4 linked regions of the Homo sapiens genome follow. The gene in region 1 interacts genetically with each later gene. Each region holds a gene or a part of one and is shown in the gene's direction. Other genes may lie near its edges.

Evidence for each region.
Region 2: changes in KRAS (region 1) and SNW1 are lethal when combined (synthetic lethality), as found in Homo sapiens cells (3 studies listed by BioGRID, with this or other methods).
Region 3: changes in KRAS (region 1) and SNRPD2 are lethal when combined (synthetic lethality), as found in Homo sapiens cells (3 studies listed by BioGRID, with this or other methods).
Region 4: changes in KRAS (region 1) and SNAP23 are lethal when combined (synthetic lethality), as found in Homo sapiens cells (3 studies listed by BioGRID, with this or other methods).

The regions. Positions count from the first base shown.
Region 1 is NC_000012.12:25,247,905-25,255,022, reverse strand, and holds the start of KRAS (GTPase KRas), read left to right. Parts: upstream 1-4,093; 5' UTR 4,094-4,272; intron 4,273-7,118. UniProt on the Homo sapiens protein: Ras proteins bind GDP/GTP and possess intrinsic GTPase activity. Plays an important role in the regulation of cell proliferation.
Region 2 is NC_000014.9:77,730,140-77,737,164, reverse strand, and holds part of SNW1 (SNW domain-containing protein 1), read left to right. Parts: intron 1-89; coding exon 90-194; intron 195-1,158; coding exon 1,159-1,228; intron 1,229-2,152; coding exon 2,153-2,218; intron 2,219-4,563; coding exon 4,564-4,680; intron 4,681-6,035; coding exon 6,036-6,177; intron 6,178-7,025. UniProt on the Homo sapiens protein: Involved in pre-mRNA splicing as component of the spliceosome. As a component of the minor spliceosome, involved in the splicing of U12-type introns in pre-mRNAs.
Region 3 is NC_000019.10:45,688,943-45,696,052, reverse strand, and holds the start of SNRPD2 (small nuclear ribonucleoprotein Sm D2), read left to right. Parts: upstream 1-4,099; 5' UTR 4,100-4,164; coding exon 4,165-4,166; intron 4,167-5,385; exon of another isoform or gene 5,386-5,481; intron 5,482-6,705; exon of another isoform or gene 6,706-6,820; intron 6,821-7,110. Other genes in the region: QPCTL (glutaminyl-peptide cyclotransferase-like protein), read right to left, coding at 335-616, 2,497-2,640, 3,143-3,349. UniProt on the Homo sapiens protein: Plays a role in pre-mRNA splicing as a core component of the spliceosomal U1, U2, U4 and U5 small nuclear ribonucleoproteins (snRNPs), the building blocks of the spliceosome.
Region 4 is NC_000015.10:42,491,762-42,498,640, forward strand, and holds the start of SNAP23 (synaptosomal-associated protein 23), read left to right. Parts: upstream 1-3,872; 5' UTR 3,873-3,952; intron 3,953-6,879. UniProt on the Homo sapiens protein: Essential component of the high affinity receptor for the general membrane fusion machinery and an important regulator of transport vesicle docking and fusion.

The DNA.
Region 1 (7,118 bases):
GTGCTAAGAACTATGAAAACATAGAATTAAAAGAAATGGGCCTGGAATAATTTACAACCTAGTAAAGCAGTTATGGGAAAACATATTTGCAAAAAAGGTATACAAAGTATAATGAAATAAGTGTCCAGTAAGGATAAAGTGCAGAGTAAGTGAATTAAGCAGCACCCATTCATGTGTTCAAATTCCTGCCAGAGTCAAAAGGTTGTGCTGAAGTAGAGTCCATGAAAGCATCGTAGATGGCTCCTCCTGCTCAAGTTCCCCTGCTCTGCGTCCTGCTACTCTGGCCACAACCGTCTGGACCCAGGGTTGACACACAAACAAACACAATAATCTTTTAGCCAGACATAAAGAAGGCCAGCCACCAATCAGGAAAATTGTGTCCCATAAAGGCCCTTCCTATTGAACAGTGAATGACAGACATGGCCAGATCTTCTCTCTTGGAATGCTTTGAATGTTAGTCACAGAGAGTGACCACTAGAAGCACAGATAGCAGTAGAAGCTAAGACTACATGAAAAAGCAGTGGACAGATGGTGATTTATGAGAATGGCAAAATTACTAGAGTCATAGGCAATGGATACTTGTTAATGAAGGGATGAGCAGGGCCCCACAGCCTGTTGCTGGCTCACAAGTGCAGTTGATTGCTGGACTGAACAGCAGCTCTCCGCCTGATGATAGGGTTTTTTAAAGTGTCCTTATTGCCTTAAAGTAAATCCTCAGCATTTGCAGTGCTCTGAGGGTGTCCTAGCATTTTATACCTTTTTTCTAAGAGCCCAGGTAACATAAGGGTACTCCTGTTGTTCTGGCTTTAATTCTATCTGCAGAAGAGGGTTTCTTGTGAAAGAAAGGGTCAGTATGGTCTTTTATCTGTACAGCAGATAAAAAGGGTATGTACGTGCACACCTTTGTACGTGGCTGCCTTCCCAGGACAGTCTGACAGTAGAGGGTAGAAACTTCAGTTGTAGCTGAGAGCAGGCCTGGAATCCCCATGCTTATACTTTTTATTTCCTCCCCCCTTTCCCATTGTGATCACAGGCTACTTCAGTGTGCTTGTCCTTGGAGAGAGCAAGGGAAGGGAGAGCCAGGGAGACTGTTCAAGGGAGCCACCAGGCTCGAGAAAGAGGAACCCCTGAAGACAGTAGAAAGTGCAGGTGCCAAGAATTTGAATATCTACATCAGAGTTTCTCAATGTGCACACAGTGAACTACCAGTTTAGGATCATTTGATTTGCTAAAAATGAAGATTACTGGTCTACCTTAGACCAACTGAATAAAATATCTGGGTGAGGGGCCTAGGAACTTGCATTTTTGGTAGGCATGGCAGGTGATTCCTAAAGCATTTACCCTTGAGACCTCTATGTTAAGGAAAGAAAGGTAATGTTGCAAGGAGGTGGTGCCGGCTTCTAAGAAAGTACCCAGGACTGAACGGCAGAAAGACCTGACATACCATATGTATAAATTGCTGTGGAAGTGAAAAGGAAAGAGAAAGTGTCTGAGGTAAAACTGGAGTGTGGGGTGCGTGGAACAAATGGTTGGATGCAGATTTGCTTTACGAATCATGAGCCTAGATGATAACTGAGACCATGTGGATGGATTAGGTTTCTGCTAATGCCAGAATTTTTATAATCAGCATAAAAGTGCTATATAAAGCTTTCCCCTCTTCTATATTATAGTCCTTTTAAGATGTATGGAACATCAACTATAGGAAGAACATCATATTCACAGCTGTAAGAGGAAACAAGAACTTATCATGCACTTGATGTTGTACAAAATAAATCTGTGATTTATGCTTGAGTGACCACAAAGTAGCATACACATAAGCGCAAATTCATTCATTTAAGAATTCCTTGTGTCTATTATGTACGAGATAAGTATCTCTGAGCTGCACGGAATGTGGCTTATCAGAAGGTGACCTAAGTTTCAAAGCAGATTTTGTTAAGATGAAGACAGAGATTGACAGGAGGTTTAAGACACTCTGTCTAAAGTAAAGATTTAGAGTCACAGAGTTCATGGATTAGGATTTAGAATCCACAGAGGGTCCACAGATTCACTCATTCAACATTCCATAAATATTTATTGAATGCCTTTTTGTGTCAGAGACTGTCTTAGGTGCTGGAAATTTAGCAGTAAATGAAACAGACCAAAACCCATGCCCTCATGGAGCTTACATTCTGATGGTAGAGAGACAAGAAAACAAAATAGATAGTGTATTATTGAAGGTGATGAGAGCTCTGGAGAAAAAGTAGGAAAAGAGACAGATCTGGGACAAGGGCGAAATTACAGTATCAAAGATGATCTTTTTAGGGAAGATCTCCTTTTAAAAACACTTTGGAACAAAGATTTAAATGAGGTGCCAGAGGGGTAGCAAGTGCATATTCCCTGAGGAAGACGCCTGCCTGGCATTTTCAAGGAACAGCCAGTAACCAATGTTTATCTACGTAAGTAAGGAAGGGAGAACAGTAGGATGAGAGTTCAGAGAAGAGGGTAGGGGATATCAAATAATTTAAGGCCATGTAGGATTTTTGAGAAGAATTTTGCTTTTATGTCAAGTGGAATGAGGGCCACTGATGATCTGGGAGTAGAGTGACTATGATCCGACATGAAGTATACTCCATTTTTTAACTATGTGAACTTGTGCCAACGTTTTAACCTCTAAATCTGTTTCGTCATTTGTAAAACGGTAAAAAGTATTTTACCTCATAAGGTTGTCGTGATGATTAAATAAGATGATACGATAAGTGCAAAAGATTTAGCTTGTACTTAACATAGAGTAGGCACATTTTCTCCCCTTCCCTGTCTTTCACTTTTCTCTTCTGCCCCTTCCACCTGGCGCTAGGAGGGGGAGACTGGAATAAACCTTGCAGATTACAGCCCGTGTAAGAGTAGAAAGGAAAGGATGACAGTTGATGTAAAGCCTTGGTTAACAGACATAATAGCTGGGATTTAAATTCAGCTTTATTGGTGGTTTATGATGTGGACTAGAGGAATGGAACTGAAAGTCTCGGAGGAGGGGCGATCCTATCAGGTACAGGCGCTGCTTTTCCAGCCCTCAATCCTCAAGACTCTCCCAAGATACATTTCTAGGTAGTTTATCAACACAGACTCCGGGTATGCTAGCATGTTTAATTGCCCCATTGTTTAATGTCTTAACTCCACGAACTTTAACTGATTAATCTGTCTTCTAATTAATGTTTGAATGACTCTCCTCAGGTCTAAACTACCAAGGCCATCTCTACTTAAAAACAGTTGTCTTTTGTTTGTGATTTCAGGGGCCCTGGGTATAAGCGAAGTCCCTGTTTAGAGACCTTGTGATGGGTTCAAAATATCAAGAAAGATAGCAAAATATCACAAGCCTCCTGACCCGAGAAGATTAGCGTTGAAAGGGTCTGTCGTGTTTGTTTGGGCCTGGGGCTAAATTCCCAGCCCAAGTGCTGAGGCTGATAATAATCGGGGCGGCGATCAGACAGCCCCGGTGTGGGAAATCGTCCGCCCGGTCTCCCTAAGTCCCCGAAGTCGCCTCCCACTTTTGGTGACTGCTTGTTTATTTACATGCAGTCAATGATAGTAAATGGATGCGCGCCAGTATAGGCCGACCCTGAGGGTGGCGGGGTGCTCTTCGCAGCTTCTCTGTGGAGACCGGTCAGCGGGGCGGCGTGGCCGCTCGCGGCGTCTCCCTGGTGGCATCCGCACAGCCCGCCGCGGTCCGGTCCCGCTCCGGGTCAGAATTGGCGGCTGCGGGGACAGCCTTGCGGCTAGGCAGGGGGCGGGCCGCCGCGTGGGTCCGGCAGTCCCTCCTCCCGCCAAGGCGCCGCCCAGACCCGCTCTCCAGCCGGCCCGGCTCGCCACCCTAGACCGCCCCAGCCACCCCTTCCTCCGCCGGCCCGGCCCCCGCTCCTCCCCCGCCGGCCCGGCCCGGCCCCCTCCTTCTCCCCGCCGGCGCTCGCTGCCTCCCCCTCTTCCCTCTTCCCACACCGCCCTCAGCCGCTCCCTCTCGTACGCCCGTCTGAAGAAGAATCGAGCGCGGAACGCATCGATAGCTCTGCCCTCTGCGGCCGCCCGGCCCCGAACTCATCGGTGTGCTCGGAGCTCGATTTTCCTAGGCGGCGGCCGCGGCGGCGGAGGCAGCAGCGGCGGCGGCAGTGGCGGCGGCGAAGGTGGCGGCGGCTCGGCCAGTACTCCCGGCCCCCGCCATTTCGGACTGGGAGCGAGCGCGGCGCAGGCACTGAAGGCGGCGGCGGGGCCAGAGGCTCAGCGGCTCCCAGGTGCGGGAGAGAGGTACGGAGCGGACCACCCCTCCTGGGCCCCTGCCCGGGTCCCGACCCTCTTTGCCGGCGCCGGGCGGGGCCGGCGGCGAGTGAATGAATTAGGGGTCCCCGGAGGGGCGGGTGGGGGGCGCGGGCGCGGGGTCGGGGCGGGCTGGGTGAGAGGGGTCTGCAGGGGGGAGGCGCGCGGACGCGGCGGCGCGGGGAGTGAGGAATGGGCGGTGCGGGGCTGAGGAGGGTGAGGCTGGAGGCGGTCGCCGCTGGTGCTGCTTCCTGGACGGGGAACCCCTTCCTTCCTCCTCCCCGAGAGCCGCGGCTGGAGGCTTCTGGGGAGAAACTCGGGCCGGGCCGGCTGCCCCTCGGAGCGGTGGGGTGCGGTGGAGGTTACTCCCGCGGCGCCCCGGCCTCCCCTCCCCCTCTCCCCGCTCCCGCACCTCTTGCCTCCCTTTCCAGCACTCGGCTGCCTCGGTCCAGCCTTCCCTGCTGCATTTGGCATCTCTAGGACGAAGGTATAAACTTCTCCCTCGAGCGCAGGCTGGACGGATAGTGGTCCTTTTCCGTGTGTAGGGGATGTGTGAGTAAGAGGGGAGGTCACGTTTTGGAAGAGCATAGGAAAGTGCTTAGAGACCACTGTTTGAGGTTATTGTGTTTGGAAAAAAATGCATCTGCCTCCGAGTTCCTGAATGCTCCCCTCCCCCATGTATGGGCTGTGACATTGCTGTGGCCACAAAGGAGGAGGTGGAGGTAGAGATGGTGGAAGAACAGGTGGCCAACACCCTACACGTAGAGCCTGTGACCTACAGTGAAAAGGAAAAAGTTAATCCCAGATGGTCTGTTTTGCTTGGTCAAGTTAAACCCGAAGAAAACCCGCAGAGCAGAAGCAAGGCTTTTTCCTTGCTAGTTGAGTGTAGACAGCAATAGCAAAAATAGTACTTGAAGTTTAATTTACCTGTTCTTGTCCTTTCCCCTATTTCTTATGTATTACCCTCATCCCCTCGTCTCTTTTATACTACCCTCATTTTGCAGATGTGTTCTACATCTCAAGAGTTATTACAGTACTCCAAAACAGCACTTACATGATTTTTTAAACTTACAGAGGAATTGTAGCAATCCACCAGCTAACCGCCTGAAATAGACTTAAACATGTGCATCTCCTTTTTTTTTTTTTTTTTGAGACACAGTCTCGCTCTGTTGCCCAGGCTGGAGTGCAATGGCGCGGTATCGGCTCACTGAAACCTCCGCCTCCTGGGTTCAAGCAATTCTCCTGCCTCAGCCTCCCGAGTAGCTGGGACTAGTAGGTGCACGCCACCATGCCCAGCTAATTTTTGTATTTTTAGTAGAGACAGAGTTTCATCATGTTGGTCAGGATGGTCTCCATCTGCTCTGTTGCCCAGGCTGGAGTGCAGTGGCGCCGTCTCGGCTCACTGCAACCTCTGCCTCCTGCATTCAAGCAATTCTCCTGCCTCAGCCTCCCGAATAACTGGGATTACAGGTGTCTGCTGCCATGCCCGGCTAATTTTTTGTATTTTTAGTAGAGACGGGGGTTTCACCATGTTGGTCAGGCTGGTCTAGAACTCCTGACCTCGTGATCTGCCCGCCTCGGCCTCCCACAGTGGCATGTGCATCTTATAGCTGAAGTCTAAGCCTTCTTAAATCTTGAGATCCATCAAAACAGACAGGTTTTCTAATTGTTATACAATGTATATGTTATGTTTATAATAGAAATCATTTTACAAATAAGTTATAAATGGGAAAGGTCTATTTGTAATTATCAGCTCAGAATTAACCATAAAACTGGTGTCACTGAAGTGACTGAGGTCCAAAATGCTGACTCTGCATGTTATAGACTACAGATATCAAATATGGTTGCTAACAATAGTTTACTTTGAGACTGTAGCCATCCACAGTATATTTGCTTTTAAGAGATGGTAGATGGTAATTCAGTTTTATGAAAAATAAAAATGAATTTTCTTCCATTACAAAATTGTTGGATTCGAGTCCAGTCCACTCCTTACTAGCTTTTCTAACTCTCGGTGAGGGATCCCCTCCCAGCCCATGATCTTCATTTGGTAAGACTCCTTTGGAACCCAGTTCTCTCTAGTGGATTTAAATGTGATTTGGTTTTAAAAATCTCATTCAAGGAATTTTTTTTTTTTCTGGAAACAACCACCGCATAAACAAGTAAACCGGAAGATACATGTGGCTCTGAATTCATATATATACACAAACTCTAATCCAATGTCTGTCCACAGTATTTCCTAGGCTAGTAAACTTTTTGGCCTTAACGACCCCTCTACCCTCTTTGTTTTTTTGAGAGAGAGAGTCTCACTCTGTCACCCAGGCCGGAATGCAGTGGCGCGATCTCGGCCCGCTACTACCTCCGACTCTCAGGCTCAAGCGATTCTCCCGCCTCAGCTTCCCGAGTAGCCGGGATTACAGGCTCCCGCCACCGGGCTAATTGTATTTTTAGATACGGGATTTCACCATGTTGGCCAGGCTGGTCTCGACCTCCTGACCTCAGGTGATCCGCCCGCCTAAGCCTCCCAAAGTGCTGGGATTACAGGCCACCACACCCGGCCTACACTCTTAAAAATTATCGAAGGGGCCGGGCACATTGGCTCTTATCTGTAATCCCAGCACTTTGGGAGACTGAGGCGGGAGGATCGCTTGAGGCCAGGAGTTGGAGACCAGCGTACTCAACATAGTGAGACCTTGTTATAAAGAAAAAAAAAATCCAGGATTAAAAAAAATCTTTGATTTGTTTGGGATTTATTAATATTTACCGTATTGGAAATTAAAACAATTTTTTAAAATGTATTCATTTAAAAATAATAAGCCCATTACTTGGTAACATGAATA
Region 2 (7,025 bases), on another chromosome or scaffold:
TGTAGTCTAGCTTAAGATTGTAATAGAAGGAAAATACCTACTGAAAGCTTGAACTAATTACACCTTTAGTTTTTATCTGCTTTCTTCAGATACACACCATCTCAGCAAGGAGTGGCATTCAACTCTGGAGCTAAACAGAGGGTTATTCGGATGGTAGAAATGCAGAAAGATCCAATGGAGCCTCCAAGGTTCAAGTAAGTGAAAAGGAATAGGCTACTAATACACACAATAACATGGATGAATCTCAAAACAATATGCTGAGTGAAAGAAGCCAGGCAAAAACAAGTACATACAGTATGATTCCATTTATCTAAAACTCCAGGAAATGCAAACTAACCTATAGTTACAGAAAGTAGATAGGTGGTTGCCTCTGGGGAAGGAGGTAGGGACAGAGAGGAGATGGGAGGGACAAGAGGAATAGGCAAGGGGCAAGCAGAAACTTTTGGGGATGATAGACATGTTCACTATCTTGCTTGTGATGATGATTTCACAGGTGCATATTTGTGTCAAAATTTAATCAAATCGTATGCTTTAAATATGTATAGCTAATAAATGTCAATTATCTCAATAAAGCTGCCTTTTTTTGTTTTTGTTTTTGTTTTTGTTTTTGTTTTTTGAGAGACAGTCTCGCTCTGTCACCCAGGCTGGAGTGCAGTGGCATGATCTCAGCTCACTGCAACCTCTGCCTCCTGGGTTCAAGCGATTCTCTTGTCTCAGCCTCCTGAGTAGCTGGGTTTACAGGCGTGTACCACAATGCCCAGCTAAGTTTTTGTATTTTTAGTAGAGACAGGGTTTCACCATGTTAGCCAGGATGGTCTCGATCTCCTGACGTCAGGCGATCTGCCCACCTTGGCCTCCCAAAGTGCTGGGATTACAGGCATGAGCCACTGCACCCGACCTAAAGCTGCTTTTTAAAGTGGAAAAAAGTATATTACTCTGCAAAATGACAATAATGTTGTGGAGGTGGGGTGAGTAACAGTTTCAAAGTTGGCCATGTTTTATTCATTGTCAAAGTGGAGTGGTAAATGTATATCATTATACAGTCTCTGTTTTTGTCTATGTTTGAAACTTTTATGCAAGAAAAAGGAGGAGAGACTTGATATGATGACTAAAAGGGAGGAAACTATATCACTCTCTGGTTGTGTTTTTATACTTCAGGATTAATAAGAAAATTCCCCGGGGACCACCTTCTCCTCCTGCGCCTGTCATGCATTCTCCTAGCCGAAAGGTATTCTTTGCTGTAGTCCAAAATATTTTTTTCTACTCATGGTTATTAATTTTATAGATAACCTCCCTATGCCTATACAGGTGCATGTCACCACACTGACTTGTAGTTTCTTTTTTTATTTTTCAAGATGAAGTTTCAAGAATGCTTATGAGAATGTATATAACATGTTAGCTGTAAGTTTTGTTATTAGTAATGCAAACCCTACTTTTAATGGAATGGACAGGGTCTGCTGTTTCAGTTTAAGGATGTTATAGGAAGTGAATATATGGGTTCATTAGGTCCCTGGTAATTTGACTTTTTAAGATATGTTTTGTTAATCAAAAGAACAATTTTTCATCCAAAAGAAGTCACATCGGCCGGGCGTGGTGGCTCACGCCTGTAATCCCAGCACTTTGGGAGGCCGAGGCGGGCAGATCACCTGAAGTCGGGAGTTCAAGACCGGCCTGACCAACATGGAGAAACCCCGTCTTTACTTTAAAAAAAATTAGCTGGGCATGGTGGCGCATGCCTATAATCCCAGCTACTTGGGAGGCTGAGGCAGGAGAATCACTTGAACCCAGGAGGCGGAGGTTGTGGTGAGCCAAGATTGCACCATTGCACTCCATCCTGGGCAACAAAAGCGAAACCCCGTCTCAATAAAAAAAAGAAAAAAGTCACATCACTTTAAATATGGAAAAATACTAGCCAACATTTATAACTGTCAAGAATAATTTCTAGATTATTTTCCATTTTTCACACTAGTTCAAAGTTATTACTAGAATTATATGGTAAACTAGTGCTAGCAAACAAATGGACTGCTGGCCTTTTACTACGGCTGTGCATATGTCAGTGTATATGGAGCTGTCTTTGAAGATAAAGATTATACTTAGATTTACTTTGTAGACTATAAATCTAAACTTGTCTCTTCTTTCCCTCTTCTCTCAGATGACTGTAAAGGAACAACAAGAGTGGAAGATTCCTCCTTGTATTTCTAACTGGAAAAATGCAAAGGTAATTAAGTTGTCAAATCAGTCTCTATTAGTATAACCTACTGGAAAACACCAGTAAAACAACTACAGCCTGCATAACTGTAGTTGAAACAACACGTGGTTTAACTGAGCATTTTCAAAAAGGAATGCCCAATTTGGTGACTTTTTTAATGTAATAGAAATGTTAGTATGCCAGGCACGTGAATACCGTGTCAGTTCCTTTTTTTTTTTTGAGACGGAGTCTCGCTCTGTCACTAGGCTGGAGTACGGTGGCATGATCTCAGCTCACTGCAGCCTCCACCTCCCAGGTTGAAGCGATTGCCCTGCCTCAGCCTCCTGAGTAGCTGGGACTACAGGCGCATGCCACCACGTCCGGCTAATTTTTCGTATTTTAGTAGAAACGGGGTTTCACCCTGTTGGCCAGGTTGGTCTTGATCTCCCGACCTTGTGATCCGCCGGCCTCGGCCACCCAAAGGGCTTAGATTGCAGGTGTGAGCCACCGCACCCGGCCCCATATCAGTTCTTTTAGTGAATTGTAGCTAGCAGAAGCACATAGAGAAGGAATAAGTAGAATAAAGTGTCATATAAATACAAGATGGTATTTAGAAAACTCAAATTTATATCTAAAAATTATTTCTAAAAGAAAGTAAACTGATGTAAAAGATTATATGACAAAAGAACAGAGTAAATGCTTGGATACTTTAAGTGCTTTAATATTCAACTACTGGGCTCTGTAGTAGTGAAGGCTTAAGCTATATATCTCTAATAATTGCCAAAGTTTCTAGGAGTTGTTAAGAATCTGTAGATTGTGGGATAGATTTGCTAGTTACTGTTTCATCTTCCCTGAATCATAGTTCATGATTTTATTTTTGATGGATAAAGAAGACCATTTCAGGTTTCTTAAGAGAATTTATATACTCACCCTAAACAAAGAGGTTGCCGACTGGTCTGATTTGAGTTGATTGGTATTTTGTAACTGGATGGTATCTTGAGCTGGTTCTATAATGCTTCATTTTATTATGAGACCATGGACTAAAAGTCAACATTTGAGAGACTAGTCAGATATCTGGAAAATAAAGCTAAGCCTGAAAGTTACATAGACATTCAAGTACAGTTCTTGAGTTATTGAAATGGGATGCAAAGTTTTAGAATGTAGAAATTCAGTTGTTTAGCAAACATTTTTTTTTCTTTTTTCTTTGGTTTTTTTTTTTTTTTTTTTTTTTTTTGAGACGGTCTCGCTCTGTTGCCCAGGCTGGAGTACAGTGGTATGATCATGGCTCACTGCAGCCTCAACCTCCCAGGCTCAGGCGATCCTCCCACCTCAGCCTCCCGAGTAGTTGGGACCACAAGTGTGCCCCACCATGCCTGGCTACTTTTTTGTATTTTTGGTAGAGACGGGGTTTCACCATGTTGCCAGGCTGGTCTTGAACTCCTGGGCTCAAGCAATCCACCTGCCTTGGCCTCCCAAAGTGTTGGGATTACAGGCTTGAGCTACTGCACCCAGCCTTTTTTTTCTATTTACTAAAACTTCAGGATTCTAAGAATATAACAGATCATTAAGACAGTACAGCAGATTTAACTTCCTATAGATGCTAAGATTATAGTGATTCTACCTTTGTTTGACTGTTAAATTTACTTGAGGAGCAACTGTTGAACTGTTTGACAGTGATTTCCTTTTATTAAAATCGACAATTATTAACACAAATATCTATTTTTCCAGAGCTTGGGTTCTGAAATCCTGCTGAGTTTAAATCCTAATCGCCCACTTACTAACTGTATGACCTTGGGGATGTTACCAAAGCATCAGTGAAATGGACACAATAATGTTAGAAGCTTTATAGAGTTATCGTGAAGGTTAAATGAGACCATAGGTGTAAGTGCTTGATCTTCTACATAAAGCACTCATTGATAGCTGCTGTTGTTTTGCATCATTGTGAAGAAAGATGCAAGGAAAAAGAACCTCCAGTTAAGTGGTTCTCAAAATGTGGGCATATTTAAATTTAATTTTAGCCAGGCTCGATGGCTCATGCCTGTAATCCCAGCACTTTGGGAGGCCAAGGGCGGATCACTCAAGGTCAGGAATTCAAAACCATCCTGGCCAACATGGTGAAACTCCGTCTCTACTAAAAATAGAAAAACTAGCCGAGTGTGTGGCGCACGCCTATGGTCCCAGCTACTCGGGAGGCTGAGGTAGGAGACTCGCTTGAACCCAGGAGGCAGAGGTTGCAGTGAGCCGAGATGGCACCCCTGCCCTCCAGCCAGGGTGACAGAGCAAGACTCCAGCTCGAAAAAAATAAAATTAATTTAACTTCAGACGATTAATTGAAGCACTTCTGTGACTGGGTTTTCTGTCTGCTTTCACTCTAGGGTTATACAATTCCATTAGACAAACGTCTGGCTGCTGATGGAAGAGGACTACAGACAGTACACATAAATGAAAATTTCGCCAAATTGGCAGAAGCCCTCTACATTGCTGATCGGAAGGTTGGTTTGTTATAATTTGTTTAATGCTCTTGTTACTTTTAAAATCCATTCTTGGTTACCTAAGGTACTGATAATTTAACTATAGTACCGAGCACCCAAAGAGAGTCTCACCCATGGTACGTGTGTCAGAAATGGCAGCTGCTAGTTGGCAGCTCTCTGCATGCTCCCAGCTTTTGTAGATGTGTACATACACCCCACAGTGGTGATCCGGCTCCCTCACAACATGTCAGAATAATGGTTTCCTAGGATGATCCCATTTTTTGAAGATTGCTAGGTTTCATAATTTTTGATTTCAAATTTTCCTCTATTTTAGATGTAGATGTCCCCCAAAAGGGCAGTTGCAGGAAAAGGCAGATAAACATTCTAATGAATTGAATAGTACATAAAATGGCGTTCATAGCATTGGCCATCTATTAATGTTACATAATGTATTAAATATTATGGAATTAGGCTGGGCACAATGGCTCATGTGTATAATCCCAGCATTTTGGGAGGCCAAGACTGGTGGATTCCTTGAGGTTGAGAGTTCAAGACCAGCCTGACCAATGTGGTGAAACTCCATCTCTACTAAAAATACAAACATTAGCTGGATGTGGCATGCACCTGTAATCCTAGCTACTTGGGAGGCTGAGGCAGGAGAATCTCTCGAACCCAGGAGGTGGAGGTTGCAGTGAGCCAAGAACGCACCACTGCACTTCAGCCTGGGCAGCAGAGTAAGACACTTCATCTCAAAAAATATATGTAAATATAAATATTATGGAATTAATATGTGATATTGAAGTTCACATGCATCATAGCATGTGTTTGGAACATAAAAAAAATGTCTTTTGTATCACAGTGAGTACCCTTATAAAAATTATCTAGCAGATGTAAGTTAAGATTTTATCTTGAGTTGACTTGATTAACTTTGAAAGTGTTATTAATTTTGAAAATGTTATTTTTTTGAGATGGATCTCACTATGTTGCCTAGGCTGGTCCCAAGCTCCTGAGCTCAAGCAGTCCTTCCACCCTGGCCTCCCAAAGTGCTAGGATTGCAGGAGAGAGCCACTATGCCTGGCTTTAATTTTGTTCTTTAGATTGTTTCTGAGAAAGCATTAGTGAAATACTTGACTTACAAGATTAATTGGGGTCACGATAGTTTCAATCACTAAAATATTCCCAGAGAAAAAAGCTGACCTTGCAGTGTCTTCCAGGCAGGATATCTTTTAGTGGACAAGACTCTTTGTTTTAATTAGCAATAACAAATCTGAATTCTGTATAATTGCTCTTACCAGCCAGATGTTAGGGAGTTGGATGATAGCCATAAATATTTATCCCATGATAGTGTCCTGTTTAACATGTGACTTTACCAACAGGCTCGTGAAGCTGTGGAAATGCGTGCCCAAGTAGAGAGAAAAATGGCTCAGAAAGAAAAGGAAAAACATGAAGAGAAACTTAGAGAAATGGCCCAGAAAGCCAGGGAGAGAAGAGCTGGGATCAAAACTCATGTGGAAAAAGGTATGACATTCTCATTACTGAATTGAATTTTGCTTGGTGAACAAAATATATCTTATTTTAGAAAATCTTTTTCCTACTGCATATAAAGTAGGTACATATAAACAAAATTTAGATACATCAGATATAGTGTAGAAATGGAGAGTAATCTCTGCCTTAGTAAGCTGAAGCAACAGGAGATAAGAAAAAAGTGGGTCTTCAGTTTGGGACTGTACCAGAAATTTTTAAACTTCTGAGCAGTGTACTTTTCAAAATTGCATTATTACTCAAATGATAGGCTTGATTTTCTCTTATCTTAATCTCAAAACTTAAGAGAAATTAGGTATCTAACAGAATAATTCAGCTCCCTCATATGGTGAAGTAATCCAGAGTTTTTCTATCTTGTAGGCTCCAATGCATTTCTCATCATTAAATCTGCCAGTATTTTCTCTCTGACTTTACTTAGTGGTCTACATTGGTGTATTAATTCAATTAGAGTGGGAAGTCGAGTCCTAAGTATAATTCAAGAAATTTTGTGAGGGTGGTTATTTTTTTTTCATTACTAAATTCTTACCTGGTACATTTATTCATTCTTTCATTTATTTAGTTCATATTGAGCATCTGCTGTGTGCAAGGTTCTCTTTTAGACACAAAGTGTTTTTGCTAGACAGTGGGTAGGGGGATGGGATATAACAGTCAACATTCTGGTGAGTGTAGACAGACAGAAATTAATCATGTAGTATAGTAAAAGGTAATAATTGCTGTGGAGGAAAAATAATACAGGGAAAGAGGATATAAAATTGCCAGAAGGTGAGAGTGGTCAAATAGCCCTCACTTCTGAGATGGTGCTGTTAGCAGAAATACTTGAAGAA
Region 3 (7,110 bases), on another chromosome or scaffold:
GTAAAAAGATCCCTGTGATGACCAGGCGCGGTGGCTCACGCCTGTAATCCCAGCACTTTGAGAGGCCGAGGTGGGCAGATCACCTGAGGTTGGGAGGAGAATTGCTTGAACCCAGTAGGCAGAGGTTGCGGGGAGCCAAGATCTCGCCATGTGCACTCCATCCTGGGGAACAAGAGCGAAACTCCGTCTCAAAAAAAAAAAAAAGATCCCTGTGGCTCTGTGCGTGGAGTAGAGTGGGAAGACGAGAGGGATGACAAATGTCCAGGCAAGGGAGGGTGGGGGCTTGGGAAAAGGTGGAGGTAGCCCACTACCCTCCCCGACTCCTGCTCCTCACCTGTTTTTTGGCCCTGCTCAGCTCCAGGTCAAGTGCTTGGGCCAGCTCCAGCAGCAGGGCACAGGGCACAGCCGAATCCGTGGCCCCTACAAAGGGGGTCGATCCGGGTGGGAAGAGCTTCGAGTCATAATGGCAGGCAAGGGTGAGGTGACGGGCAGCCCTTGGGTCCAGTGTGGCCACCACATTGCCAAAGTCCACTGGCCCCAGGGGTGTTGAGGCTGTGAAGGGATCCAGCTCCACGTGCCAACCTGCTGTCAGGGACCGCAGCGTGGCCTCCAGGAACTAGCGGCAAGAGAGAGGTGGGAGGGTGGACGGGGACTGGGGAGGAGGTGGGGAGAAGGGCCACGTGACCTGAGCCATGCAGAGCAGATGGGTTGACACTAAAGCCCCACTCTGATTGAATGGATTTCTTTCTTTCTTTCTTTTTTTTTTTGAGATGGAGTCTTGCTCTGTCACCCAGGCTGGAGTGCAGTGGCTTGATCTTGGCTCACTGCAACCTCTGCCTCCTGGCTTCAAGTGATTCTCCTGACTCAGCCTCCTGAGTAGCTGGGGTTACAGGCGCCCCCTACAACGCCTGGCTATTTTTTGTATTTTTAGTAGAGATGGGGTTTCACAATGTTGGCCAGCCTGGTATTCGAACTCCTGACCTCAAGTGATCTGCCTGCTTCAGCATCCCAAAGTGTTGGGATTACAGATGTGAGCCACTGTGCCCAGCCCCCTACTCTGATTAAAATCATTCCCTTGACAGTGCTGGTGAGTACCTACTGGGTGCCAGATGTTGGGGAGACCCCACCTCTTGAAGCCAGCAAGACTCATCACAGCTTACCCTTAAATAGCTCTCACTGTGTGCTAAGCCCTCTTCTAGGAACCATTTAGGGGAGGGACTGCCAATACATGACCCCATTTTACAGATGAGGAAATGGGCTCAGAGAGGTTAAGAAACTAGTCCAGGCCGGGCGCGGTGGCTCACGCCTGTAATCCCAGCACTTTGGGAGGCTGAGGTGGGCGGATCATAAGGTCAGGAGTTTGAGACCAGCCTGGCCAATATGGTGAAACCCCGTCTCACTAAAAATACAAAAAATTAGCCAGGCATGGTGGTGCACACCTGTAATCCCAGCTACTCAGGAGGCTGAAGCATGAGATTTGCTTGAACCTGGGAGGTGGAGGTTGCAGTGAGCCGAGATCGCGCCACTGCACTCCAACCCAGGCGACAGTGTGAGACTCCATCTCAAAATAAAATAAAATAAAATAAAATAAAAAAGAAACCAGTCCAAGGTCACAATCTAAGTGGATGAGGTAGCATTGGGACTCAGGCAGTATTTAAGTGACTTTTTTTTTTTGAGATGGAGTCTCGCTCTGTCACCCATGCTGGGGTGCAGTGGCGCAATCTCAGCTCACTGCAGTCTCCGCCTCCTGGGTTCAAGTGATTCTCGTGCCTCAGCCTCCCAAGTAGCTGGGACTACGGGTACCCACCACCACGCCTGGCTAATTTTGTATTTTTAGTAGAGATGAGGTTTCACCATGTTGGCCAGGCTGGTCTCAAACTCCTGATCTCGAGGGATCTGCCTGTCTCGGCCTCCCAAAGTGCTGGGATTAGAGGTGTGAACCACTGCGCCTGGCCTTTAAATGACTCTTCATGCTTTCTGGAAGACAACAGATACATTACAGCACCAGCTCGGAGCCAACCTGTTTGGGTTCAACTCTAGGTCTATGATTTTCTAAACATTGGGTCTCACTAGGTTGACTAGGCTAGTCTCAAACTTCTCAGGTGATTCTTCCACCTTGGCTTCCCAAAGTGCTGGGATTACAGGCATGAGCCACTGCACCCGGCTAAGGTCTACTACTTATTATCTGTAGGATTTGTGCAATGTGTATAACCTCTCTGAGCCTCAGTTTCCCCATCTGCATAATGAAGATCATATTGGTACCCACCTTATAGGGCTGTCTGTTGCCTATGCCTAGCACACAGTAAGCTTTTGGTGGGGGCATTAAGGGGGGCAGTACAGCCTGGTGGTTTGTTACCAGCATGGAGTCTAGAGTCCGATTAACTCCAGTCAGAGCCCCAGTTCCTCCTCTTAGCTTCTTTGGGATCTTGAACAGGATTCTTATTTCCCATTCCCTGGAGGGCTAGGGGGTCAGGGACTGGAGGTGGGTCCCTTTACCTTTCTGACTTGGAGATTTCCCGGGCTGCCCGGGGTTCGCACAACCAGCAGGGGGCGCAGATAAGTGCTCCAGAGACGCTGTGGATCCAGTTGTCCCACCACCCTCCGCAGCCGGGCTTCGGGGAGGCTTCCGATCAATGGGACCTTGGGAAGGAGGTGGGATAGGGAAGGGAAGAATGAGAGCAACCCCCCCATTTCAACCCTACCCCGGGCGCCGTCACCCGCGAGGAGCCCCGGGTTCTCTTCCTAATCTGCCGCCTCCAGCATCGGAGACTTCTAGGATAAATCCAAGGCTCAGGAAAAGTCCTTCCAAGACCATCCGGTCCAGCCTACCTCAAACTTGATGGGGAAATCGAGGCCCAGTGAGAGAGAGGGGAGATGGAGGAAGGGACTCTTCCAAATAGTTGACTAAAGGCGTAGAACCCTGAACCCCCCCGTCTTACTATTTCAGACCTTTCCTCTTAAAAGGAAGCTACTGTTGCAGAACCAGCCCGAAGCCTTATTCCTTTGGTAAGGGTCATGCGCTCAGATGACGAAGACGGTGGCATCTGCGGTTAGGGCCGTACGCTAAAGCCACGTCAACCCTGGGTAACAGCGGGGAGGGAATGAGGGTCCCCGCGGTGCCCGGGTCCCCGCCCAGCCTCACCCGCAGCTCCCGGCCCAGCGGCAGCTCCTCAGTCCTGCGGTGCCAGCCGCTCCAAATGGTGTAGAACGCCGAGCCCACGGCCAGCGCCAGCAACAGAGGCAAGAGCCGAACCCGCGGTAGCAGGCGGCGCTTCGGCGGCAAGAGTGGCTCCATGAGGCCACGTTCCCCCAGCCGCAGGCGGGGTCGCCCGCGGCCCCCGGAACGCATGGCCGCTTTGCCCTGAAACCTGTACCAGACCACGGATTGAGTTTAGGCCCAGCCAAGTTCCTCCCCATGGAATCGGTGGGCCAATAAGCAACAGCTGCGGCTGCACCAGCCCACCCCACAGCGAGCAGCGAAACCAATAAGAACTACGGTCCTGAGGACACGCCTCCCAGCCTCCCTTAGGTATTGGGGTTGGTTCCCCTGAGAATGGCACGACCCAAATGGGAGCGCAAGAGAAGTAGGCTCCGCCTTAGCGGAGGAGGGAAAGCCAATGAACAGCGTTTGATCATGGAAAATATTCGATCTCCCGGGCGCAGGTCCATGCCCCTTCCGGATGTAGGCAGGGGATTGGTGGCGCAGGGTCGGAAAGATCAGTAGATACGTCAGTAACGCGTCCCAGAGGGAAGAGGGGCGGTGCCTGTCTCCGAAGCGAGGAGCGGATTGGCTTCACGGAGGCCGCGCCCCCGAAGTCACGGCCGGCGGGCATTTGGAAATAGCTTGTCATTTCCCTCCTTCAACCTGTACCATTCTTCAAGAAACGGTTTGAATCAGACTGCCTTTCCTTTTGTCTTCATTGTCATAAACATCTGCCCCCGTGTGGTTCTGACTGGCCGCGAACCCCTACCCGAAGCTTTTATTCCATCATTGTGCACCGTTGGTGGGGAATGCTGTGGCAACAGGCCACGCCTCCACTTACTGGTTGGCTTTGCGCAGGCGCCAACGGAAGTGGGTCGCAGGAAGAGGAAGTCCCGCCTCTCTCTCCTCAGGCAGCAGCAACGCGGAGGAAACGGGAGTGAACGGAGAGCGTAGTGACCATCATGTGAGGCCGGGCTAGGCTTAGGCGGCGGGAATGAGGTTGAGGGTGGATATTTGACCGATTGAGTGTGGGAAGGGTTGAGCAGAGCGGGGGGGGCAGGGGCAGATGTTTTAGGGATGCAGCGTCCTGCTTTTCTCCTGATGAGTTTGAGAACGGGCGTGGGGCCTTTGACGCATCGTGACTTCGGGAGAGGGGACAGCTTTATCAGATAACGCCCTGGGCTGGGCGCGGGGGCTCATTCCTGTGATCCCAGCACTTTAGTAGGCCAAGGCGGAGCATCGCTGGAACACAGGAGTTCGAGACTAGCCTAGGCAACATAGCGAGACCCCCGTCTCTACAAAAAAAAAAAAAAATTTAATTATGAAAAACATGTTTTAAACGATAACGGGAGTGGTCCTAGATAATTAGTCCTATTGAAATGAATGTTAAGGGGCAGCGATTTTACGAATACTGGGGGAGGCCGAGCGCGGTGGCTCAGGTTTGTAAATCCCAGCACTTTGGGAGGCCGAGGCGGGCGGATCACCTGAGGTCAGGAGTTTGAGACCAGCCTGGCCATTGTGGTGAAACCCCGTCTCTAACAAAAATACAAAAATTAGCCGGCCGTAGTGGCGGGCGCCTGTAATTGCAGCTATTCGGGAGGCTGAGGCCGGAGGATCGCTTGAACCCGGGAGGCGGAGGTTGCAGTGAGCCGAGATTGCGCCACTGCACTTCCAGCCTGAGCGACAGAGTAAGACTCCATCTCAAAACGAAACAAAAGAAATAAAACGAATAATGGGGGAGGGAAGTTAGGACTTTTAGAAATAATTATTTGAAATAAGGGACTTATCTTGATCATTTGAGCTGGAGACGGGTGCGTTTTCGACTTGATTCACAACTTACACGGATAACGAACGAGTCATTGACATGATTTTGCGCATTTATTAGTGCAGCAGATATTACATTGAATGCTTATGTATCAGACACTGCTTAAGCTACATAGGATACATCAGTGAATGAAACCTCTAGTCCCCAAGGGAAAAGAAAAATCTTTTTCTCTTTTTCTTTTTTTTTTTTTTTTTGAGACGGAGCCTTGCTCTGTTGCTCAGGCTGTAGTGCAATGGTGCGATCTCAGCTCACTGCAACCTCCGCCGCCTGAGTTGAAGCGATTCTCCTGCCTCAGCCTCCCGAGTAGCTAGGATTACAGGCACCCACCACCATGCCCAGCTAACTTTCGTATTTTTAGTAGAGACCAGGTTTCACCATGTTGGCCAAGCTGGTCTCAAACTCCTGACCTCAAATGATCCACCCGCCTCGACCTTCCAAAGTGCTGGGATTACAGGTGTGAGCCACCGTGTCTGGTCGGGGTTTTACTTTCTACACTGAGATGGGGGGAGGATGGGAGGGTTTTCTTTTGTTTTGTTTGTTTGAGATGGAGTCTCGCTCTGTCACCCAGATTGGAGTGTAGTAGCACGAGCTCTGTCTCCTGGGTTCAAGCGATCTTCCTGCCTCAGCCTTCAAAGTAGCTAGGATTACAAGCATGCGCCACCATGCCCAGCTAATTTTTTTTTTTTTTTTTTTTTTGAGACGGAGTCTCGCTGTCGCCCAGGCTGGCGTGCAGTGGCGCAATCTCGGCTCACTGCAGCCTCCGCCCCCTGGGGTTCACGCCATTCTCCTGCCTCAGCCTCCCGAGTAGCTGGGACTACAGGCGCCCGCCACCTCGCCCGGCTAATTTTTTGTATTTTCAGTAGAGACGGGGTTTCACCGTGTTAGCCAGGATGGTCTCGATCTCCTGACCTCGTGATCCGCCCGCCTCGGCCTCCCAAAGTGCTGGGATTACAGGCGTGAGCCACCGCGCCCGGCCTAATTTTTTTTTTGAGATGGAGTCTCACTCTGTAGCCCAAGCTGGAGTGCAGTGGCGCAATCTTGGCTCACTGCAACCTTCGCTGCTGGGGCTCAAGCGTTTCTGCTGCCTCAGCCTCCCAAGTAGCTGGGACTAGAGGGATGCGCCACCACACCTGGTTAATTTGTTTGCATTTTTAGAAGAGACAGGGTTTCACCATCTTGCCCTGGGTGGTCTCGAACTCCTGAGCTCAGGCGATCCACCTCGCGTCGGCCTCCCAAAGTGCTGGGATTACAGGCGTGAGCCATCGCATCTGGCCTAATTTTTGTATTTTCTAATTTGTATTTATTTATTTTTTGAGACAAGAGTCTCGCTCTGTCACCCAGGCTGGAGTGCAGTGGCATGATCTCACTTCACTGCAACCTCCGACTCTCTGAGTTCAAGCAATTCTTCTACTTTAACCTCCCGAGTAGCTGAGATTACAGGCGTGCACCACCACGCCTGGCTAATTTTCTGTTGGTTGTTTTTTTTATTGTTGTTTTGTTTTGTTTTGTTTTGTATTTTTAGTAGAAATGGGGTTTCACCATGTTGGCCAGGCTGGTCTCGAACTCCTCACATCAAGTGATCAATCCACCTTGACCTCCTAAAGTGCTAGGATTACAGGCATGAGCCACTGTACCCATACCCTGGGAGGGTTTTGAAGAGTGACATGTTATGATTTAGGTTTTAGCACAACCCCCTCAGACCACTCTGTGGAGAACAGACTGTCAGGGAACGTGGGTGGAGGCAGAGAGACCAGAAAGATTCCAGGACAGAGATGACAGAGGCTTAGGCCATGGTAAGAAACGGCCATTTCCTACAGATTTCATGTAGGATGTGAGGGAAAAAGAGGAATCAAGTTGACAAAAGAGTTTTTGCCCAGAGAACTAGAAGGATGGAGTTACCATCAAAGCAGATGGGGAACGCTGTAGATAGGGTAGGCTTGGGTGGTTGGGTGATCTGGATCCCGACCTGAGACATGCAGAGTTGAAAATGTCTGGCTGGGCACGGTGGCTCACGCCTATAATCTCAGCACTTTGGGAGGTCGAGGCGGGTGGATCACAAGGTCAAGAAATCAAGACCATCCTG
Region 4 (6,879 bases), on another chromosome or scaffold:
AGTAGAGACGGGGTTTCACCATGTTGCCCAGGCTGGTCTCAAACTCCTCGGCTCAAGTGATCTGCCTGCCTTGGCCTTCCAAAGTTCTGGGATTGCAGGTGTCAGCCACCGCGCCCAGCCTACATTTATTATTTATTTATTTAGTTAGTTAGTTAGTTAGTTATTTTGAGATGGAGTCTTGCTCTGTCGTTCAGGCTGTAGTGCAGAACCGCTCTCTTGGTTCACTGCAACCTCCACCTTCCGGGTTCAAGCGATAATCCTGCCTCAGCCTCCCAAGTAGCTGGAATTACAGACGTGCACTACCACGCCCAACTAATTTTTGTATTTTTAGTAGAGATGGGGTTTCGCCATATTGGCCAGGCAGGTCTCAAACTCCTGACTTCAAATGATCCGCCCACCTCGGCTTCCCTAAGTGCTGGTATTACAGGTGTGAGCCACCGCGCCCGGCCGCCTATATTTATTATTAAACTTAGCCCATACCCATTCCCTCAGAAACCTAATTTTAGTGACTAAGACTATCAGATAAATGAAATGACATTCAGGTTGATAATTATGTGGAGTGTCCCTCCTATATTATTGAGATTATAACATCTCTGTTTAACAAGACCTTCAACGTCTCAAATAAAAGTAAGCAGCGGTGGGGCACAGTGGCTCACGCCTGTAATCCCAGCACTTTGGGAGGACGAGGTGGGCAGATCATGAGGTCCAGAGATCGAGACCATCCTGGCCAACATGGTGAAACCCCTTCTCTACTAAAAACACAAAAATTAGCTGGGCGTGGTGGTGCGTGCCTGTAGTCCCAGCTACTCGGAAGGCTGAGGAAGGAGAATCGCTTGAACCCGGGAGTCGGAGGTTGCAGTGAGCCGAGACCTCGCCCCTGCACTCCAGCCTAGCGACAGAGCGAGACTGCGTCTCAAAAAAAAAAAAAAAAAAAAAAAGAGAGAGAAAAAAGAAAGGAAGCGGCTATATTAACCTCTTCTATGTAAATCCAGATTTGTTCTAGAGGTTTAGGAAACTTCCAATTCCGTGTTTGTGACATCACAAGTCCTTGAAACACTCAAGGGTTGTGGTACGCTGCTCATTCTATTCTCCTTCAAAGGCATGCAATGGAGGAACTATTTTACCCTATAAACTCTGGGCCATCATTCAGGGAAAAGCCTGTAGAAGACCACAGTCAGATATTGGTGAGTGCCAAGGTAACGCTAGATTATGGTTTCTCAACTTTGGGATTACTGACATTTTGGAACATATACTTTTTTGTCAGGGGTATCCTGTGCATTATAAGATGTTTAGCAGCAGACTGGGAGCAGTGGCTCACACATGTAATCCTATAACTTTGGGAGGTCAAGGGAGGCAGATCGCTTGAGTCCAGGAGTTTGAGACCAGCCTGGGTGACATGGTGAAACCGTGTCTCTACAAAAAATGCAGAAATTAGCCGGCAGTGGTGGTGCACACCTGTAGTCCCAGCTACTCAGGAGGCTGAGGTGGGAGGATTTGAGCTGCAAAGGTAGAGGTTGCAGTGAGCTGACATCACACCATTGCACTCCAGCCTGAGCAACAGAGCAAGACCTTCTCTCTCTCTCTCTCTCTCTCTATATATATATACATATATGTGTGTGCGTGTGTGTGTATGTATGTTTAGCAGCACTGTTGGACACGATGCTAGTAGTACCCACCCCCGTTTCCCTGTCATCACAATAAAGCATCTCCAGACATTGCCAAATATCCCCCGGAGGACAAAATCGTCCCTGGTTGAGAACCACGGAATTATATCAATGACCATCACAACCCTAAATGAACTAATGAACTCAACCATACATTTTCTCCACCTCTGCCCTCAACAAGTGACTGCTGCTTGAGAAATTTACACAGGAGGGCAGAAAATGGTGAGTTCATTTTTGCCCATATTAAAAAGGCCCTCAATATTGCTTACCAGTCCTACAACATTCTTCTGTCAACTTGTTGTATTACTTTCTACAATATTCCAAATCTTCTCAGCTTTCCTTTAAACTCCCAATACCACCTCCTTTTCTATCAGAAGATGACCCCATCTTCAACTTCACAGAGAAAACAAGTCAGCAAATGAGAACTTTAACTTCCTGTTACTAAACATACAGAAACATACTTCCTCTCATAATTGGGGAAATATCTCCTCTCTCTCTCTTTCTCCCTCCCTGCCCTCTTCCAAAACCATTATTCTTACCAGTGTTTCGAACTGCCTCTAAACTGCCTCTATTCTTACCCTTTCAAGATCTTTGCCTACTGACTATCCCTTCTCTTCCTTTATTCAACCATTTTTTTCTCAGTTGAATCTTCCCTACCATGCTCAAGTTTCTCCTGTCTTAATTCTAACAAAAATCAAAAAAACAAAAACAAAAAATCTTGATCCTTCATCATTCTCCCTCCTTCCTCCCTGTCAAGGCCAAACTTTCCAAAAGCATTCTACAACTTGTCCCCATCTCTACATCTCCCCCACCTCCAAACTACTAAGTTGTTTTTTTCAACCCCAGCATTCCAACAAACAGCTTTCACTGAGATAATCAGTGACCTCTGTGTTATGAAATTAAAAAAAACATTTCTCAGGCTTCATCTTCCTTGATCCCTTAGGAATAGACTACTTACTCCTTGAAGCACTTTTTTTTTTTTTTTTTGAGATGGAGTCTGGCACTGTCGCCAGTGATAGACATTATGATAGTAATGTAGCTGGGATTACAGACACCCGCCACCACACCCAGCTATTTTTTCTTTCTTTTTTTTTTTTTTTTGTAGGGGGGACGGAATTTCACTCTCGTTGCCCAGCCTGGAGTGCAATGGCATGATCTTGGCCCACTGCAACCTCCGCCTCCCAGGTTCAAGCGATTCTCCTGCCTCAGCCTCCCGACTAGCTGGGATTACAGGCGCCTGCCACCATGCCCGGCTAATTTTTTGTATTTTTAGTAGAGATGGGGTTTCTCTATGTTGGCCAGGCTGGTCTGGAACTCCTGACCTCGTGATCTGCCCGCTTCAGCCTCCCAAAGTGCTGGGATTGATTACAGGCGTGAGCCACTGTGCCTGGTGAAGCACTTTCTTTTCTTGATTTCCAGCAGTTTATTTTATTCTTAGAGGTGCATGGAGGGGTTCCTGCAGCAAATAGTTTACAATAATCCTCCATCTGCTTAAAACTCTTCAATAGCTTTCAGTGCCCCTAGTACAAAGTGGTCTAAAATTCCAAGGCCTTCCAAGATCTAGCGATTGTTGGCCTTCTAAAGCTTTCTTTCCTCTACACTCGGGGATGTACGATTAGCACTAAGCCTCTAACAAGGATGAACTACTAGAAATTTCCAGAAGGCGTTATGCTGTTCTCGACATAAGCTGTTCCCCAGAGCCTGGAAAACTCTAGCTCTTTCTCTGCCGGATTTCCGGGGGAACTCCTACTTATCCTTCATGACTCAAGTCACTTCCTCCGGGAACCCTTCCAGACACCCCTAAGAATAAAACGCTTTGTTCATTATCAGCCAAAGGCGCCTCAAATTTTCTATGTGCTATGCACTGTATTCTATCCACTATAATTTGTTTACATATCTATATCTTAGTCTAGACATATTGAAAGGCGATGAAGAGCAGGGAAAGCACTGTATTCGCTTTCTTTTCTTCAGCGTTCATCCAGCACAGTGCCTGGCATACGGTTTGCCCTCAGTAAATGTTTATTGCATGAACACCTCCCAGCTTCGGGCAGGACTGAAATCTATCCGGTTAACTAGTGAATTCCCAGACTCTCCGTCTGCGTGGCAGGGACATTTAAACCCCCAGCACCGTGATTGGCTCCAGCTGCAGGGGTGTGTCTGTGTCCGCGGCGAACGGGAAGTGAGCAGGCGCGCGGGCTCGGCGCGCGCAGGCGCGACTAGGGTGCAGCGCCAGGTCCGGTGTTGGGGTGTCCGAGTTGCCGCCGGAGAGGAGTGGCCTCGCCCGCTTGGTGAGTCTCCAGGAGTGGGACGGAGGGAGCTGGCCGGGATGAAGTCTGAGACTATGTCCTGAGAAGAAAGAGTGTATCGTATTGGTTGAAAAGTTGGTGGGGTCGGGCTTAAGCGGAGGAGGGGGCTCTCTGGCCCTTACTCGGCAGATGGGCCCGGAGAGAGGACGGGAGGTGCCGGGAGAACATCGAGGGACCAGTGGAGGAAGGGTAGCTGGATGGTAATTCTCTGGACCCTTCCTCGAAATTAAACAGAGATCACTTTCCGCCCCTCACCCTTACTGTGTTGCTGTAGTTGACATTAATAGACTGCCTGTATGGTGACCACAGTGATCAGATAGCTCTGAGATAATGGCTTGAGGAAGGACTCTGAGGTTCCTGGTATTGGATAGCCCTTGCTCTCTAGAAAGGTTCAGCCTTACCTCGCGGCATTACTGCACAAATTAGAGGATCAGGAAAAGAATGAATTTCACAATTCGGGATTGGAGTGGTGGGGGGAAAAAGTACTGTAAAGTGTAGTTTCATCTCGTCCTTTTTTTCTTCTTTAATCAGTCACCACAATGTTAGGAAAGGCAGTTGATGGTAGGAGGAAACGTAAAGACATAAAAGTGGGAGAGGAAAAAAAAGTCAAGAAGGGAGTATCATTTTGCCTTTTGCTATTTGTCATCTCCTGGAATGGGGTCTGTATTAGTGCGTTCTCACACTGCTATAAAGAAGTACCCAAGGCCGGGCTTGGTGGCTAACGCCTGTAATCCCAGCACTTTGGGAGGTCGAGGAGAGAGGATCATATGAGATCAGGAGTTCGAGACCAGCCTGGCCAACATGATGAAATCCCATCTCTACTAAAAATACAAAAATTAGCCAGGCGTGGTGGTATATGCTTGTAATCCCAGCTACTCCGGAGGCTGAGGCAGGAGAATCACTTGAACCTGGGAAACAGAGGTTGCAGTGAACCGAGATCGTGCCACTGAGCTTCAGCCTGGGAGACAGAGTCAGGCTCCAACTCAAAAAAAAACAAAAAGCAAAAGAAATACTCGAGACTGGGTAATTTATAAAGGAAGGAAGTTTAATTGACTCTCAGTTCTGCATGGCTGGGGAGGCCTCAGGAAACTTATAATCATGGTGGAAAGCAAAGGAGAAGCCAAGCACCTTCTTCACAGGATGGCAGGAGAGAGACAGTGAAGGGGAAAAAGCCCCTTATAAAACCAGTATCATGAGAACAGCATGGGGGAAACCACCCCCATAATCCAATCACCTCTCACCAGATTCGAGATGAGATTATGAATAGCCAAACTGTATCATTCTGCCCCTGGCCCCTTTCTTTCTTTCTTTCTTTTTTTTTTTTTTTGAGATGGAGTCTCACACTCTGTCACCCAGGCTGGAGTGCAGTGGCGCGATCTTGGCTTACTACAACCTCCAACACTTCAAGCGATTCTCCTCCCTCACACTCCTGAGTAGCTGAGACTACAAATGTGTGCCACCAAACCTGGCTAATTTTTTTTTTTTTTTTTTTTTTGAGATGGGGTCTTGCTCTGTCGCTCAGGCTGGAGTGCAGTGGCGCGATCTTGGCTCACTGCGACCTCCGCCTCCCAGGGTCAAGCAATTCTTCTGCCTCAACGTCCCAAGTAGCTGGGATTACAGGCACCTGCCACCAGGCCTGGCTAATTTTTGTATTTTTAGTAGAGATGGGGTTTTGCCATGTTGGCCAGGCTGGTCTCAAACTCCTGACCTCAGGTTATCCACCGGCCTCCGCCTCCCAAAGTGCTGGGATTACAGGCGTGAGCCACCGCGCCTGGCTAATTTTTGCATTTTTTAGTAGAGACGGGGTTTCACTCTATTGGCCAGGCTGGTCTCAAACGCCTGACCTCATGATCCACCCACCTCATCTTCCCAAGGTGCTGGGATTACAGGCATGAGCCACCACGCCCAGATTCCCTGGCCCCTTTCAAATCTCATGTCCTCACAGTTCAAAACACAATCATGCCTTCCCAACAGGCCTCCAAAATCTTAACTCATTCCAGTATTAACCCAAAAGTCCAAGTCCAAAGTCTCATCTGAGACAAGGCAAGTCCCTTTTGCCTAGGAGCCTGTAAAATCAAAAGCAAGTTAGTTACTTCTAAAGATGCTATGGGGGAATAGGCATTGGTAAATGCTCCCATTCCAAATGGGAGAAATTGGCCAAAACAAAGGGGCTACCGGCCCTATGCAAGTCCAAAATCCAGTGGGACAGCCATTACGTCTTAAAACTTATTTTAATCTCCTTAGACTCCATGTCTCACATCTAGGGCACGCTGATGCCAAGGGTGGGCTCCCAAGGCCTTGAGCAGTTCTGACCCTGTGGCTTTGCAGGGTTCAGGCCCAGAGGCTGCTCTGCTGGGCTGGCATTGAGTGCCTGAGGCTTTTCCAGGTTCATAGTGCAAGCTGTTTGTAGACCTGCCATTCTGGAGTCTGGAGAATGGTGGCCCTCTTCTCACAGCTCCACTAGGCAGTGCCCCAGTGGGGATTCTGGGGGGTGGGCGGTGTCCAATCCCACGTTTCCTTTCTGCAGTGCCCTAGCAGAGGTTCTCCATGAGGTCTCTTCCACTGCAGCAGACTTTGGCCTGGACATCCAGGCATTTCCGTACATCCTCTGAAATCTAGACAGAGGTTCCCAAACCTCAATTCTTGACTTCTGTGCACCTGCAGGCCCAGCTACCACGTGGAAGCTACCAAGGTTTGGGGCTTGCACCCTCTGAAGCAACAGCCCAAGCTGTACCTTGACCCCTTTTAGCCAGGAGCTGGAGCAGCTGGGACTCAGGGCCCCAAGTTCTGAGGCTGCCCACGAAACCATTTTTTCTTCCTAGGCCTCAGGTCTTGTGATGGGAGGGGCTGCCATGAAGATCTCTGATATGCCCTGGAGACATTTTTCCCATTGTTTTGGTGATTAACAT